2 separate regions of the Homo sapiens genome follow, and region 1 is linked to region 2. Evidence: fine-mapped QTL for protein levels in blood plasma. Region 2 holds a variant in brackets. A gene starts in the other region. All regions are shown on their forward strands.

Region 1 (8,339 bases), not on the chromosome of region 2:
CAGGCAAGGTGAATCTATTGAGTGGTTACAGTAACAATACCATAACAAAGGCACAAGAAAAGGCTACATGGCTGTTTTAAAATGTAGATTCTATTCTTCTTGTGAACAGATCAGGAGTTGACTGCTGTTGAAAAGAGATTTTAGTGTGCTCAGATCCCAATACAAGGGGCCATGACACACCATGGGGCTGGAGGCACACGGGAAGCACCAGGGTTATTCAAGAGACAGATGGAGTGGAGGAAAATGTGAGCAGGAGTCTTTATTGTGGTTTCTGAAGGAAGACAGGAGAGATGGGGTAAGCAGGTTTTAAATGGGCTAGTGTGAATAATTTTGGTGGGCTCTGGGATCTTGGGGCTGTCCCTAGTTGGTCATGGGGTGATTAAGGCATGGGAATAATGGCCCACAGTGCACAAGCCCAATAAAGGTCGTTGGGGCTTTGGGCTCTGGATTGGTTAATTTGCATATGAAAGGCATGCTCCTGGTGATATCTCTAGGAATTAGCTAGTCCTGGGAAGGGCAGTCCTTTCAAGGTCAGCAAGGCCCCAAGGGGTCAAAACGTTAAAAATACAGAATTAAAAGACATGATTAATACAGTGGCTCAAAACATAGGAAGCCCAGAAGTGAACAAGTCCAAGTATGTTTTCAATTCTGAGCATACCCCCAATCCACTTGTTGTCTTTCACAGCTTTCTATTTGCTTCTTCAACAGCACTAACCACTAGTGTTTTCTGTTTGTTTACATGTTTCTTGCCTGTGTATCTCACTACATTGTCAGCTCCAGGAAGGCAAGAAATTTGCTTGTCTGGTTTTCTGCACTAGTCCTAATTGCTGACACAGTGCCTGAGACACAATGGATACTCAATAAACATTTGTTGAACAAATGAGTGAAAACAATAGTGTTTGATGGTTATCTGTGTATGCATAATATGATTTGCATGTACACACACATACATACTACTATTCATATATGTATATGTATGTGGATATTTGTGGGTGCTTTTGAGTTGATGTTTTTCATGTACATTCCAGTCAAGACTGCATGGCTGGCTGACTACTAGATAGACCCAACAGAAATCTATTTGCCCAGGGGTCTCAGGAATCTCCTGGAAAGAACTTGCCCTCTAGGACCAGCAGAGAAGCCTGATACAGTACCAATCATTTCAGAGGTTAAAAGAGAGAAGCATTTCTGCATGTATAATGCTATATTTCACCTGAGGAGGCCTCGGTCCTATCCCTCATGGATTTATAACTTGGCTTTTATAAGAAGTCAGTTTAGAAACTGGAAAACCTATTTTTTATTGAAAGCGCTACAATATTTTAGGATGCTGTGTCAGTCAGAGTCCAGCCAAAAAGTTAAAACCATACCAAGTGACCACACAGAAAGAATTCAACATGTAGGGTAATTTACAAAGTGCTAGAAATGCAGTTAAAGCAACCAAGCAGAAGATGAATCAACTCTGAGATTAGAAAATGCAGAAAGTTGTTACTCCTTCTAGGTCAGGAAGGACAGTGATGAGAAGGTGGGGTCTAGGAGCTGGGGCCATGCAGTAAAAGCTGGAACAATGTTGGCCTGTGTGGCACAGGGGGAACCACAGATAAAGGACCTTTCCAAAAGGAGATGAGCCTTGGAGAGGGTGCAGCCACTACCCATGATAGCTCCTGAATTGGAGAGAGGGAGACATATCCCTTCTCCTTTTCTCTCTCTCTCCACTCTTTCACCTGTGCCTTCCCCTGGCTTAACTTAATCAGATGCAGTTGGCAAGGAAGCCTGGAAGCAAGGAAGCCTGGAAACCACATTTTAAAAAGTCAACTTTCTATAATACAGAGCCAGGAATGAAAGTGAAGAGAAAGGATTTAAAAGCAAGCAAACAAATTTGAGGGCAGCACTGGTTTAGTATTCCAAAAGAGACCATAATAAAAAACTAAAGGGCGTCATTGTGGCAGGCTGGATCTCCACAAGCAACCAAGTCTCCATAAGCCCTTTGCTGTAATGATGAATGTGTAAGTTAAACATTGAAGAACTAGAGAAACTGGTGCCTGAGTAGGAGACCTGGAATGCAGAAACAAACCCGTTAAGACCCTACCTGGGCTTTCTCATCCTCAAACCTGATTGAGTGATAAAAGCATTCATGCACATACAAACCATACCAGGACCCATGTAAAATTAAGAAACTTTCCAGCCCACAGACCACTAGTTAAAGATTAGATTTAGGCTAAGTAGAAATACTCCTGCATATAGGCATAGAGCTTGAAATTCATTTATATATACTAAAGGAAAAACTCATAACTTTTAGTTGGTCTGGTAAATTACTCCGACCTTCTCCCTGTGGCTGGTTACAAAAATAAACTCGCTTCTTTCCCAGTTCACCTGTATCTCATCATTGGACCACGAGAGCAAGCAGCTGGACCCTGTTCCTCCGGCAACGGCATCAATCTTACCACCAACCTTGGCTCTTTGAGGGGCTTGGTATATTAATATCACTGGCATCAGTGGGAATATGTGGGAGAAATGGAAGCAGTACTGGTAGAGAAAGAAGGAGAAGTGGCAGGATTGAGGTGCATGGCAGGCATTCATGGTGTCTTTCATGTAGTTTATAAAGTAGTTTATAAAGTAGCAGAAAGATAAAGAAATGACAGTTACAACATGGTAACATAAAAATTAGTAAAATGTGACATAAATTAGATATTAATTTTGGTTTGGCATAGCAGAATGCTCTGTCTGCATAATTTTATTAGATCTTCATTACAATACCACACCCTCAGATGAGGACAAATAAAGCCCCAACCTCTGGCCTTACATCTTAAGGTGTGTTTTCTCAAAATTTTCTGGGTTCCACTTTGGTGGTGGGAATGGCTGGAGCCAGCAGTACCACGTGGCCGGGGAGCCCTGAGCTGGTCCTGTGCCCATATGGACTCCGCTTTCTATTTCACCCCTTCATGGTTCTTTCTTACCCTCTTCCTTGCATGTCGGGCCCACTCGATGCCCCAAAGAACTCCAGGACTTCTGCTCACAAATGAAGTTGTCCTGAGGTCCTGTGGCTGAACCCTGGATCCAGAAAGACAGCCTTGGAAACAAATTACTACTCCTGTAGCCAGTACCTTACAATTACGTATTTTTGAATGATTTTATCGGATTTGATTGCCAAAGAATCTTGCAAAAACAATTTTTTCCCCAAGCTACACACCTTATGGTTGGTTGTGTTATTTATGTTCCCATTTTAGATGAGAGGACCAATATCCTAGATTAAAAATGTCAAATCCAAGATTACACAAACAGTGAAAATTGAATCCCAGGTTTTTCAAAAGACACTCTGATTTTAGATCTTAAGCCTATTATTCTATCCAAAGGCTCAGAGAAGACATGCTCTGAACATACTCAAAGTAACTGACACTGGAAAAGGTAACAGAGGTGTGAAAATCTTACCATAGTAGATGTGTGAGTGGGCTGGGGGCAGGTGAATTCCAGAGAAATGTGGCACTAAATGTCATGAAGCTGACTCTGTATTATACCAGAGTGGCCTCCAGATTGCTTTCACAACTGGGTAGTTCATCAGCTAATGTGATTCTCCAAACTTTAAATGATTAGAAAACTGGGGAAAAATGTAGAAAACCAGAGGAAAACACTCCTTCTAATCCAAATATAAATTCTTCACTTCTTTTCAATGTTCTTCCAGGAGAAGGATTCGTTGGGCTCTTTGCCTTCTGCTTTTATTTCTGTGCAAGGGTTTATGCAAGAGGTACTTGAGAATGCTGTACTGTAGAGCTTTGTTTCTCATGGGAACACACGGGGAAGTGGAAAACCCTCCAAATTGTTTGGTGAGAAAACATAACATTTATCCCTTTCTTTGGTGGGGTGAGTCAAGTGGTAGGGACTAGAATTCAGGTCCTCAATGGGCATATAAATATGTGTGTGCAAAAGCAGCCATCACACTTTGTATGGCAAGTGGAACCACTGGCTTGGTGGATTTTGCTAGATTTTTCTGATTTTTAAACTCCTGAAAAATATCCCAGATAACTGTCATGAAGCTGGTAACTATCTTCCTGCTGGTGACCATCAGCCTTTGTAGTTACTCTGGTAAGTAACTGGAATACATCTGGAATATGTGACATTTCTTTACTTTTCTGTTAATAAGAGCACAACTAGTAAGCCTTGCCTCACTGACAGTGGAATATGGTGGTAGGAATTGTATTTTTTTTTATTTTACTTTTAACTGACACATAATAATTGCACATATTTGCAGGGTTGGAAGAAGTTTTGGAATCACAGAAAATGGTGATGTTGGAAAGTATTTCAGATCCCCACCATCTAAGCTCTAGCCCAATATAAGTATTCTAATACATCCTACATAGGAAGTTAGCCAACTTCCACGGAGGGTCAACAAAGCACATTTCACTGCTGGATATTGGTCACCATTCGTTTTTCTTATTTTCCTCAATTTTGAGTTAAAATTTGACTTTATAATTTCTTTTGTGCTTTTGAACTATATGGAGTCATTCTTGCTATCATCTCCAGTTATCCAATTTGCTAGCTTGGTTCTCCTGAGATAGCTACATTCATCTGTTTATCCACTCAATGGATATTTATTGAATGGCTACAATTTGTTGGGCACTGGATAGGCATTGGAAGATTTAGACATGAAGCAGTCATAAATATTGTTCTTAAGGTGCTACTCTGGTAGGATAGATAGGGCTTCTGCCTAAGTTACTATAATTCTAGACTACTGTAAACGTACTGTGAGATATCCAGATAGAACTCTTTTAGTGTATTGGTGGGTGATTAGTTTAATTTTCAGGTAAGGGTATAGAAGCTGGCTTCTTGGAGGAGAATGGGAACTGATTTATTTTTTTGGAAGGAATCATTGTAACTATCAGGAAGACAGTGTGGGCACATGGGAAAAAGAGATTTCATGATAGCCACTGCTCATTGAGAGAACAGAAGGCTTTGAAGATCTTCTCCCAGGAAGCTGTAAACACATACAGAGAAGATATTTACCAAAATGTCTGAAATAAGAAGTATGGAGATTAATAATGAAAAATTGATTGCCGCCCACACCTACAATGGCAACTTTGGCTTTTGATGTTTATTGAATTTCTGAAGGAATTTGTAACTTCACCAGTTTTGGATATTTCACTGTTCTCTAATGTCCAGGGACAGGTATCTATGGGCAAAGTGGCAGCAGAAAGGAGGTGGGGAAAATAAATACCGCCCCCTCTGGGTGAGAATTTTGGAGGGACAATAGGTGATTGAAAATTTAAAAAAATATATACAGGCTCCATTTTAATAATTTGAATGGGGAAATAATAGGTTTCCAAAGGAAAATAAACTATGGCAGGTCTTAGCCAGTAGGAGGATGTGTGTTCTTACGTGTGTGCTCACATGCATGTGTGCATTTATATATCTGCACATGTTTTTGTAAAAAATACATCGTACATATTTTCCTCAATCTCTACTTTTTCCCACCATTCATCTTCTACGGGAAAGTTATCTTCCTAAAGCCAAAGATATAAAACGTAATTTTCCTATGTAAAAGCCTTGATAGCGCCCCACTGCCCTCAGGAAAAAAAAATCCAAACTCCTTTGTGTGACATCCAACACTTTAAAAAATCTGACCTCACTCAACTTTTGCAGCCTCACTCCCTTTATCTTCCATCCTTTGGTCATAGCCTATTGGAAATCTGCACTCCAGCCTTCTGGGCAGAAGGCTCACCATCCTGTGTATGCACTTTTATCCTAATGGTTCCGTGCCTTTATTGGTCATGTTTCTAAAATGCTTCTCCTCTTCTTTACCTTATGATCCTGACATTTGCCTCAAGACATAGCTCTAACAGCACTTCTGGAAAATTCCTGCAGCACTCTTTCATGTTAGAATTAGTCATCCCTTTCTTGTGTTTCCATGGAGCTTTGTCCATAATGTTAGCATAGCACATGCTACACTGTGGCATACACAGATCTTCTATCACCAACTGGACTGTGTGAAGTCTCTGAATGGGCATCCTTGTCTTATTTGTCTATGTATCTGCACAGACTAGATAGAGTTGGTGCTCAATTATGTTTGTAGCGTTGAGTTGAATTGGTTGGGAGCAGTTTCTTGGGCTGTGGTTGGGTCCATTCCTGTCTTTATGTGGAGATTCACTATAGCATCTCTCCTTTAGCCTCAAAGCTGTGAGCTGTGGAGACAGTCACATACAAAATACCATCGCCTTCAGACAATCACAATGATCTGTTGAATGCTTACGCTGCCAGGGTCAGTTGTAGGCATGGGTGCATTAGCGAAAAAACACACATTCCTTGTTCTCATGGAGCCTCCATTCTAATGAGAAAATAAAGACAATAAAAACAGCAAATGAAGAGTTGCTTTTTTTAGGTAATGGTAAGAAAAAATAAATGACGGAGAGTGACTATGGCCATTGCAGGCTTCTCCGAGGAGGTAATATTTGAAGAGAGACCAAATAATGTGAGAAAGAAAGGTAAGTAGCTAGCTAAGGAAAAAAAGTTCTAGGGAGATGGAACAGCAGGTGCAAAGGGCCAGAGGTAGAAGTTTTCAATGGAAGTAAGATGAGTGGATCTGGAATGGAGCTATTGATGGACACAGGGAAAGAAGATGAGGTCATAGTCTGGGCCCAGATGTGCCTGTCTCACCTGGTTTCTCTTTTTCCTGCAGCTACTGCCTTCCTCATCAACAAAGTGCCCCTTCCTGTTGACAAGTTGGCACCTTTACCTCTGGACAACATTCTTCCCTTTATGGATCCATTAAAGCTTCTTCTGAAAACTCTGGGCATTTCTGTTGAGCACCTTGTGGAGGGGCTAAGGAAGTGTGTAAATGAGCTGGGACCAGAGGCTTCTGAAGCTGTGAAGAAACTGCTGGTAACCACAGCTTGGGAGGCTAATCTGCCAAAGGGGAGGCATACTCACCCTGAATGTCTAGCTCCTCTTCTTGTCCCTTGTAAATGTGCATTTCCACTTTACTGATTATATTCATAGGAAGTTTGCACATCCTGGAATCTCAGGAAAAATACAATTTCTACATTTCTGGGAAGGGTTTTTGAATGATAGTGACATGTGTTATAGTTGTGACAATACCATTTACCACCTTCGTGATTTTGGATGAGACGTAATCACTCTGAGTTTTTGTTTCCCCATCAGTAAAATAGTGGCCAAACAGGACACTGGAAGTGAATATGTTTTGAAACATGCGAATTACATGTAAGCTGCTCTAAATTTTGTTGTCCTTCTACATTTCAGGAGGCGCTATCACACTTGGTGTGACATCAAGATAAAGAGCGGAGGTGGATGGGGATGGAAGATGATGCTCCTATCCTCCCTGCCTGAAACCTGTTCTACCAATTATAGATCAAATGCCCTAAAATGTAGTGACCCGTGAAAAGGACAAATAAAGCAATGAATACATTTTCAGTCGTCCTATTTTTATTTCTGGGGACTCTATTCAGAAGGACGTATCCAGATTAGTTTTCCCTTGGTTCATAAACTCGAGAGAGCCTGTTTTTATAAAGAAAACCTGGAATCTTAAGTAAGACATAATCATTCCTTCTCCTTTCCTTATCTCTAATTTAAACATCTCTATTTTTCCCAAATGTTTTATCTCACGGTGTTTTCAGACCCTTCACTTTCCTATCCCCCATCCTAAATAAATTTTTACATTTAAAAAATGAAAAAATAATTTTCAAAATATTGTCTGATAAGACTAGCATCTTACTAACTTCATTGGTTTGGCTTCTGTTTCACTAGAATGCTAGTTCTTAAGTTTGTAGTTAAGCTATGGCCACTCAATAGCTTTCACCAATCCTTCCACCAAGTTAGGCCTTTACTACATCATCCTTAGGCAAATGGGTGATGAACTATCTTTTCTTTCCTTTACTCTGTCATCTACAGTGATGACAGAATTATCTTTCCAAGGAATTATTCTGGTAATATCATGACGGCCTGTAGAGCAGATTTCAAGCTTCTGAGCATGGCATGCAAGGCTGTTCATGATCTGGCTTTTGGTTACACGTCTAGTCTTCTTATCTACATTCCTTTCTTCACATGCGCTCTACTCCAGCCACACTGAACAGATAACTAAATCCTTTTCCCTCTAACACTCTTACACCTTAATGAAAAATCAAGTTTCTTCCTACCTAGAATGTCTGCCACCATCGACCTTCAGACCTGGCCTGTGTCAGTCTTTGGACTGTTTGCTGTCAGGTCCATTTCCTCCACTTCCCCTGTTCTGCTCTGCTCTGCTCTGCTGTGTGTTGAGGCAGGACAGGAAACATGATACTGATTGCTGCAGCTTGCATTTCTCAGGTTCCCAAATCAGCTGACATTTGGGCTAGGTTCTG
Region 2 (8,339 bases):
AGCACTTTGGGAGGCCGAAGTGGGCGGATCACTGGAGGTCAGGAGTTCAACACCAGCCTGGCCAACATGGTGAAACTCCGTCTCCACTGAAATTACAAAAATTAGCCAGGCGTGGTGGCGGGCGCCTGTAATCCCAGCTACTTGGGAGGCTGAGGCAGGAGAATCACTTGAACACGGGAGGTGGAGGTTGCAGTGAGCTGAGATCTTGCCACTGTACTCCAGCTTGTGTGACAAGAGTGAAACTCAGTCTCAATAGATAAATAAATAAAATAAAATAAAATAATATACTTCATACTCTCCTAACAAACACAGCTTCTCGCCCATTTTTGTCACCCCAAGGGAGGGGAGCGGCATCTGATCAAAACACCCCTTTATGGTTCTTCTGCACCTAAAAATCTTTGCCAAACTATTTGGAATTGGAGGGGAAAAAAGAAAAATAAACATAAGCTTAAAAAAAAAAGAGGACGGGCGATAAGGAGATAATGGATTCTGTGTGATCTCTTGCAGACAGATTTTATAAGTGCAAAGTATCTCGAGGCCCAAAGTCCTAAGACCCGAAATGATCTGAACACAACCCGCTTGTGACATAATGGCAAGGATGCTTCAGAAATTAAAGGGCTATGGAGCAGACAATAGCAATTGAAAGCTACACAGCTATAAAACACAGCCAGCACTTAGCTCTTTCAGCCACTGCCAATAGTGAATAACAGATCAGAACTGATACATTTAGAAATACTCATAAAACCTACTACGGAAGAAAACAAAAATAATGCCTGTACATTGCCAAAATAAGGAAGATTACGGTTCTGGTAAGAATAAATGACCAAATCATTACCTACACGTAAGAAATGCAAAAGACTTGTATATGACAGTCATAAAATGTAAAATGTGGTACAAGGTGCCATCACTGAGCCGTACCCCACATCCTGGACGTTACAATATCATATTTGATAGTAATAACTAACTCACGTGAAATGAGTATTGCTATGCAAAACTTTCTTTTGCATTTCTTCATTTGTGTTCAAATTTGCAACCTTAACATGTTTATTGCCACTGATTTGCATTTCATTTCATAGGTGAAAGTTTCCAAACATAAGCTGTGGACTTATTTCTTATACACCTCTTGACACCAGCATGAAACGTATGTTGCCAAAACTCAGTCCTCCTAGTACCCATTCAATTCACCATTCACATTACAAAGAGCTGCTCTGTTTTTCAAGTATACTTTCCAGATCCACTTATGCATCTAATCATCAGGCAGGTCATGAGCTTGGTGAGATTTTGTTTCTGTTGCACATACTTCGCACATCGTTTCAGATGTTAAAGACGGTTTCGCATTAAGTTCTCCTTCTTTCAAATCAAGAAGGGAGGCATTTCCTCCCACTTGTTGACTCAGAGCTGTAATCAGAGATTCTGGGATTAGCCATTTATTTCATTACACACACACACACACACACACACACACACACACACACACACACACACACACTCTTCAGCTTTCAAAAGAGGTCGGGGGAAGGGAGAAAACAATCATGACTTCAGTAGCCAAGGAGATTAACTTCCAACGTACCGACAGGGAAGAGGAGGGATGCACCATTTAAAAAAAAAAAAAAAAAAGTTTCAGCTGGAGAAAAATTTTGGAATATTTTAAATTAATGGGTAACAAAGGGTTGCCATGGAAACAGTTTTGCATACTTGACTGCAGGTGCTCCCTACAGTGAAGGGAGATTGGGATGATACAGCCACAAGCAAGGACACTGATGTGAACATTAAAGTGAGATTCCTAAGGCAATGTTAAGTCATCCGAGCCACGGACACTGTGGTTTTCGATACAAATGAACTCACTTATGCAACGAGGGTATGTGAGCTTTGCAACACCAGCTAACACTCACTTGCGTCCAGAAGCTGTTCCCCCTTTTACGATATTCTGTGGTATTGCCAAGGTTACAAAATGTAAACAGATACAAACACGAACCATAACAAGAACCAAAGTCAAATATATTCTCGTTTTTCCATCTTTGTCCTCTAAGCTGTGTATTTCTAGATTGTGGCTTTATTTTTTTAGAGTGAATATGCACTAGCTTTAATCAGAAAAATATACATGTAAGGGAATGAAAACTACCAAGGAGTATAGTTCCCCTGAGTGTCCTGTGTACTCTATGCCAGTTTCCAAGCCTACGTTCTAACTTGCATCTAATTTTGGTCACATAAGGGAAATACATGTGTGTTGATGCTTGCAGGAAGTCCTATTTAAAAAGAAACAAACAAATACTGAAACCTCCCAGGTTATGTGGGACAATATGATAAAATTATGTCAGTGAAGGTAACATCATTTCCTTCTCACAACGGATGATGTCTTAGGTACTTCTCAGGGAAGGGGTGGAGCAAGCCATAGCCACAATGCAGCTGGACTTGAATCACTTTCTAATTTTCCTGAGTACTTCACTAGATCACTTTTTGCTCCATTACTTAGGAGAGGAGATGGAGATATCCCTTTGGGAAAAAAAAAAAGTCCTACAAACACACACTTAGTGCTTGAAGGAGACTTAGTGAGGAATCCAAGCTCCACCTCCTTCAGATGAGGCCACTACAGATTGGCCAAGGTTAAATTACTGGCTCAAGGTCATTTCACTAAACATCGGTCATAATCTCTCTTCAGGGAAATTCCATCTCCCTGCTCCGCACCAAAAAAAAAAAAAAAAAAAAAATCCACTGACCTTTCCATTCTCCAAACCAACAGCGTGTCAAGTTCAAAGCTAATTAAAACCAAATTATAAAAATAACGTCAGTTGTGTGGTCTAAGAAGACGATGGGAAATCTAATGCAGAAAAGCAGAGTCCTTAACACCTTTCTGATGCTATATGCAGACTGCGTCTAGGTGCATTTCATGTATTATCTCATTTAAGTCATTCGAGAGTCCTATCAAAGCAAGTCATTCTATTAGCCCATTTTACAGATGATGAACAAACAGGAATTAAGTCCCAGGAGCTGGGATTCAAACCCAGGCAGCCTGACACCAGGCATCTTCTCCCTCCTTAAAACCCCAAGAGCTATCTGGGTTTCCTTTAAGACGCATGGACATCCTATCTTAAATTTTTCTAGTCTGCAGCACCCACTGAGCCCCACTCCACCTGCCACACCAACATGTGCCCGGCATCTCGTGGGCATCCAGACACCTCCTGAATGGTCAGATCCCATTAGATTTCCATGGCCTCTCCCGCAGTAGCTTGAGCGCTCTTAACCAGGTATGTTACTACCTCTAGTGAAATGTATGCCCTCGTCTGCAAAAACAGAAATAACCAATCTGAGCCCTGTCTTCAGAGACACAACAGATCATCATTACTACTCTCCCAGAGGAGTAGGAAGGTGGAGGGGAGGACAGCAGGGATTGAGAAGAGACCTCGAAGCTTCTACACAGTGGAGCCGAGAGAGGAGAGAACATTTCACCATTAGGTTTTAGTATTTTACCCTCACATTGCATTATGAACATCTCCAA[C/T]CAAGGAGATGAGTTGAAAAAAAAATCATACAGTAGACACTTAAGTATCCACCACCCAGCTGCTGAAATTAATGCTTTGCTGTCTATTTTACAGCCTTCTCTTTATCCTGCTATCAATGTGCCTTACATCTTTTATTCATTCCAAAGTAAACTGCAGAAGCAGTACACTCCACCCCTCCCCCTACTCCAGCATGCACAGCCTCAACTACAGTTTTCTTTTTGTTTATGGGTTTTTATTGTAGTTTTATTATTTTAATAGATCACGTGAGCAGACTTCCTGACTAGCAAAACACTAAAAAGACCCAAACTCCAGTGTGTTGTTATTATGAAATGTTTAGCTCACAACTTTCTTTTTTTTTTTTTTTTTTTTTTTGAGACAGAGTCTCGCTCTGTCGCCCAGGCTGTAGTGCAGTGTCGCGATCTCGGCTCACTGCAAGCTCTGCCTCCCGGGTTCATGCCATTCTCCCACCTCAGCCTCCCGAGTAGCTGGGACTGCAGGTGCCCTCCACCACGCCCAGCTAATTTTTTGTATTTTTAGTAGAGATGGGGTTTCACCGTGTTAGCCAGGATGGCCTCCATCTCCTGACCTGGTGATCCACCTATCTCAGCCTCCCAAAGTGCTAGGATTACAGAGGTTAGCCACCACGCCCGGCCACAGCTTTCTTTTAAAAGTTAGAGTAGGCTAGGCGTGATGGCTCAGCCTGTAATTCCAATACTTTAGGAGGCTGAGGCAGGAGGATCACTTGAGGTCAGGAGTTCGAGACCAGCCTGGCCAACATGGTAAAACCCCGTGTCTGTTAAAAATACAAAAAAAGTTAGCCGGGCCTGGTGGCGGGCGCCTGTAATCCCAGCTACTTGGGAGGCTGAGGCAGGAGAATCACTTGAACCCGGGAGGCGAAGCTTGCACTGAGCTGAGATCACACCATTGCATTCCTGCCTGGGTGACAAGGCGAGACTCTCTCAAAAAAATAAAACAGAGTAGTATCCACAAGTATGTGAGAAGAAGTTCCAGTTATTAAAATTATTTTAGTACCATAGCCACAGGTTCAGTAAGTACAAGAATGAATCTGCCTTTGTCCTCTGTCTAGTTCACCTTTCTATATGATTCTACCCTCTTTAAATCTTGCTCAAACTCCAGCTTGCCCCTCCCTCCCAGAGGTCTTTTTGGATCTAACCAGTTGGGTGTGGCTGCTCCCTCCCTTCACCTTCATAACTCTTGTGTCCGCATTTGACGGCTCTTACTGAATGATCAATTCCTCTTTGTATTACGTATCACAGTAATACAGTTTCTTAAACTGTGGATCATGACCCATTAGTGCAGTGGTTCTCAAACTGCAGCCGCACATCAGAATCCGACAGTAAATGAAACCACAACCTCTGGGGGTCAAGCCAGGCAGGCGTAGTTTTTTAAAGGCCCCTGGGCTAAGAGTCGCTGGATTACGAAATCAGGATCATGTCAGGGGATCATGAAATCCATGCTGTGAGTACAACCAGCATTTGTAAAACAAAACAGAATTGAATGTAATAGAAAGCATCAGAATGTAGCACCTGCAGTAAGGATAAAATCATTCTGCACAATTTCTGTTTTAGTCAAATATACAGAATATCTAGCTATATGTATGTGCTGGGTCACTCATGTAAAATGCATTTCTTTTTAGATTATCGTCAACAAAGTTTAAAAGTCACTGCCCTAAAGAAGCAAGGACGTTATCCTGCGCATAGCGGGTGCTCAAGGACGTGTGGCTTGTACATGGGACAGGAGGAGAGAAGCAGGTCAGAGCTTCTCTCACTGGGAATATGTTCTGCCACCAAAAATGTGGTTCTCAGGGCGGGGGACAATCAGATATGGGACTAAGTAAGCATCATTCAGACAAAGACGCTCGCCCAAGGATAAGGGAACGAAAGCAGGAGAGGAGCCTCTAGGGAAACTGAGGGAGGAGGCGACTCGGGGCTGCCCCTAATCTTTAAATTTCTATGTTTAAGATTCCGTCTTTTGGCCGGGTGCGGTAGCTCACACCTGTAATCCCAGCATTTTGGGAGGCAGAGGCAGGCGGATCGCCCGAGGTCAGGAGTTCGAGACCAGACTGGGCAACTTGGTGAAACCCCATCACTACTAAAAATACAAACATTAGCTGGGCATGGTGGCATGTGCCTGTAGTCCCAGCTACTCGGAAGGCTGAGAATCGCTTGAACTCGGGAGGGGGGGGTTGCAGTGAGCTGAGATCACGCCACTGCACTCCAGCCTGGGCGACAGAGTGACACTCTGTCTTAAAAAAAAAAAAAAAATCCATCTTTTGCCATCAAATCATCAGGCGACACTTGCTGATAGTCTACCTAATATCCCCAAGACCCTGGGAAGGCTACAAAGTTGGGTGAGAATAAACAGATCCCACCGGTAAGGATCTTACAACTAAGCAGAGAAGAAAGACCACTAAAAATATGGTCTATCATAAGAATGGGAAAGGAACAAGGCATTTTGATGAGAGTGCTGGGGAGAAAGAGCAGTGATTTTAGTTGGCAGAATTTGGGCGGACAGAGCCGAAACTCACGGGTGGCCAGCAGCACGTGGGAATTTTCAAAGTAATTTGACACCAGCTGCATGATCTTGCCAGGGCTGTGTCTCAGGGGTCAGTACAGGAACAGAGCTGTGTGTGAAGCTGATGGTAAATGACCTGGGCTGCAGAAGCTCTGCAATGACCTGGTCCACACAAGCCATCCACTTTACACCAACATATGCCTTAGGGCTCTACCTTATGAAATGCCAAGTGTGCGCATGAGGCTGTTGTACCTGTTCTAGCACAGGGCAGAAGCACGGCATGCTCTGCTGGTACCCTATGGTTCAATATTTATTGAGCTGGTGTCACACACTGTTCTAAGCATTAGGGACAGAGCTGTTAATGGGGCAACGTAGGTCTCTGCTGTCTTGGCAGACAACTAAATTAATGAACAGACAAGAAAAATAAATATAATCACTGTCAATGCAGAGAAGTTATCTTGAGTGAAGTGATGGTGTAGCTCCTTGAGACTGGGTTGTCAGGGAAAGCCTCTTTGACGACCAGATATTGAATGAGAGCTGAATGTCAAGGTCAAGGAGGTACATACACTCAGTAGAACAGCAAGTGCAAAGGCCCTGTGGCAGGCGCCAGCTTAGCATGTTGAATGAACAGAGAAGGCTGCTGTGGCTGCAGTGTAGGGGGCAAAGGGGAGAGGGTTGTAAAATGAGGTCAGCATGGTGGGAGGAGTTCAGATCACAAAGGAGCTTGTAAGCCACAGTACAAAGGTGAGCTTTTATCTTAAGTGAGGTGGAAAGCCTTTGTGGGGTCTTTGCAAGAGAGTGATATGACCTGATTTTCCTCTTCGTAAAATCCCTGTATGGAGAGGGGATTGTAAAGGGCAAGAGTAGAGGCGGGGGAGAGTTGAAATACAGAGAGACGATGGGGGCTGGCCTGGGAGGGTGGTGGTGCAAATGTATTTTTGAAGGAAGCACCCACAGAACTTGCTGATGGTTTGGCTGTAGGGGAGCAAAAGACAAGGAGCCCCACAGATAGTTCCCAGCTTTTTGGGTTAAGCAAATGATATGCTGGAGGTGGCCCTAACCGAGATGGGGGAGCCCATAAGCATTTGGGGGTTCTGGTCACAGAGTCCTTTCTGCACCATGCTAAGCCTGCGGAGTTCATTCTCAGACATTCGAATGCAAATGCCAGGTGGGGAGCTGGATACAGGAAGAGGCCTAGGCTAGGGACAGATTCAGATGTCATCAGAAAGTAGATGGGGTTTAAAACCACTGGACTGAATGAGATACTTAGGGAGAGTTACAGACAGAAAAAAGAAGGGGCTCTGGGACAAGCCTGGGGGCATAATAACACTCATCGTGAAGTCACAGAAGAGAAGCCAACAGAGATAGACAAAGGGCAAGAGTGGCAAAGGCGGCTGAAAGGTCCGGCGAATTAGGACACAGCCGACAGAGTCAGCAACACAGAAACCACTGGCGACCTGTCCTACTAGTGGTGAAAAGTGTCACTTCTGGATCCAGCAACTGGGAGGGGACATGGTGAGTCAACTCCCAGAGTGGGCATGATTCAGAGTGAGGGGTTGCTGGGCAATGCGGCCTTGGGCCTTGGGTGCCAGCCCCCATGGAGGACCAGGTGACTTCCATGAGTACAGGCTGCCAGCTTCAGGGCCACCGCCATGCTACACCCCGCAGCTGCTCCCACGCCACCTGCAGAAGGCAGTACCTTTCCATCCTCTCTGTTCCACTTCTACCACTGCAGAGGGAAGGAAGGAAAACACCATCTCCTCTCACTTCCTGACCTTCCTCCTCTGCCTCCAAGAGCCTTTTTTTGGTTTGTTTGTCCTATGCACGACTTTTTCAGTTTTCCAACAATCACTGGTGTCCTATACTTCTTAACCCTCCACTTGTAAAACAACACCTTTCAGACACTCCTCAGCTACTTTTCTTGCAAAGAAACTTGCTGTCAGTAAAGACAAGAGAGTAAATGGAGAGAAACGGATAACCACCTGCTGATGTCTACTTGTGCTGCATTCTTGAGAAACTCACAAAACTGAAGGCAATCCAGGTCCTCAAGAGGTTTACGAACCAGTTGGTGAAACCACCTAGCACATGACGCAGAGACCAGCGTGGTGCCAAACAGTGTGACACCCGTGTGGGGCAGAGATGCCGTGTGTGGGTACAGCAGCTGGAGAGACAGTTCTGGAAAACCAGGGATATGTCACTAGAGCATAAAAGATGGACAGGAAATATGCTCTTCCTTAAAGTCTGATTAAAAAATAAAAGATACTTTCCAACAGGGCCCCGTGCCCATCTCAGCAACGCAGGGCGTGT

Alleles and levels. Positions count from the first base shown, and alleles are read on the strand shown. Strength reflects both the effect of a copy and how common the allele is.
With allele T in place of C in region 2, the plasma level of the protein whose gene starts at base 3,927 in region 1 is lower (weak association).

What was found. A credible set is the group of variants that fine-mapping cannot tell apart. PIP is the chance, under the fine-mapping model, that this variant and not a neighbour inherited with it causes the effect. The UK Biobank Pharma Proteomics Project read protein levels with antibody pairs (Olink). The fine-mapping took linkage between variants from a reference panel, not from the people measured, so its PIPs are less certain.
Region 1: it holds the start of SCGB3A2, and the variant in region 2 is the best candidate, but not a certain one, in a credible set for the plasma level of the SCGB3A2 protein (UK Biobank, PIP 0.60).

The regions. Positions count from the first base shown.
Region 1 is chr5:147,874,785-147,883,123 of GRCh38, forward strand. SCGB3A2 (secretoglobin family 3A member 2) reads left to right here and starts at 3,927. Exons shown (of 3, transcript NM_054023.5): 1 at 3,927-4,074; 2 at 6,662-6,864; 3 at 7,243-7,407. The coding sequence starts at 4,020. The coding sequence ends at 7,266. RefSeq lists enhancers at 1-93, 94-759.
Region 2 is chr16:72,929,968-72,938,306 of GRCh38, forward strand. All of the region lies in intron 3 of ZFHX3 (zinc finger homeobox 3), which reads right to left. Among named protein-coding and RNA genes, the nearest start is that of ZFHX3, 110 kb to the right of the region's middle. RefSeq lists an enhancer at 6,563-6,857. The variant C/T (reference allele first, on the strand shown) is at 3,497.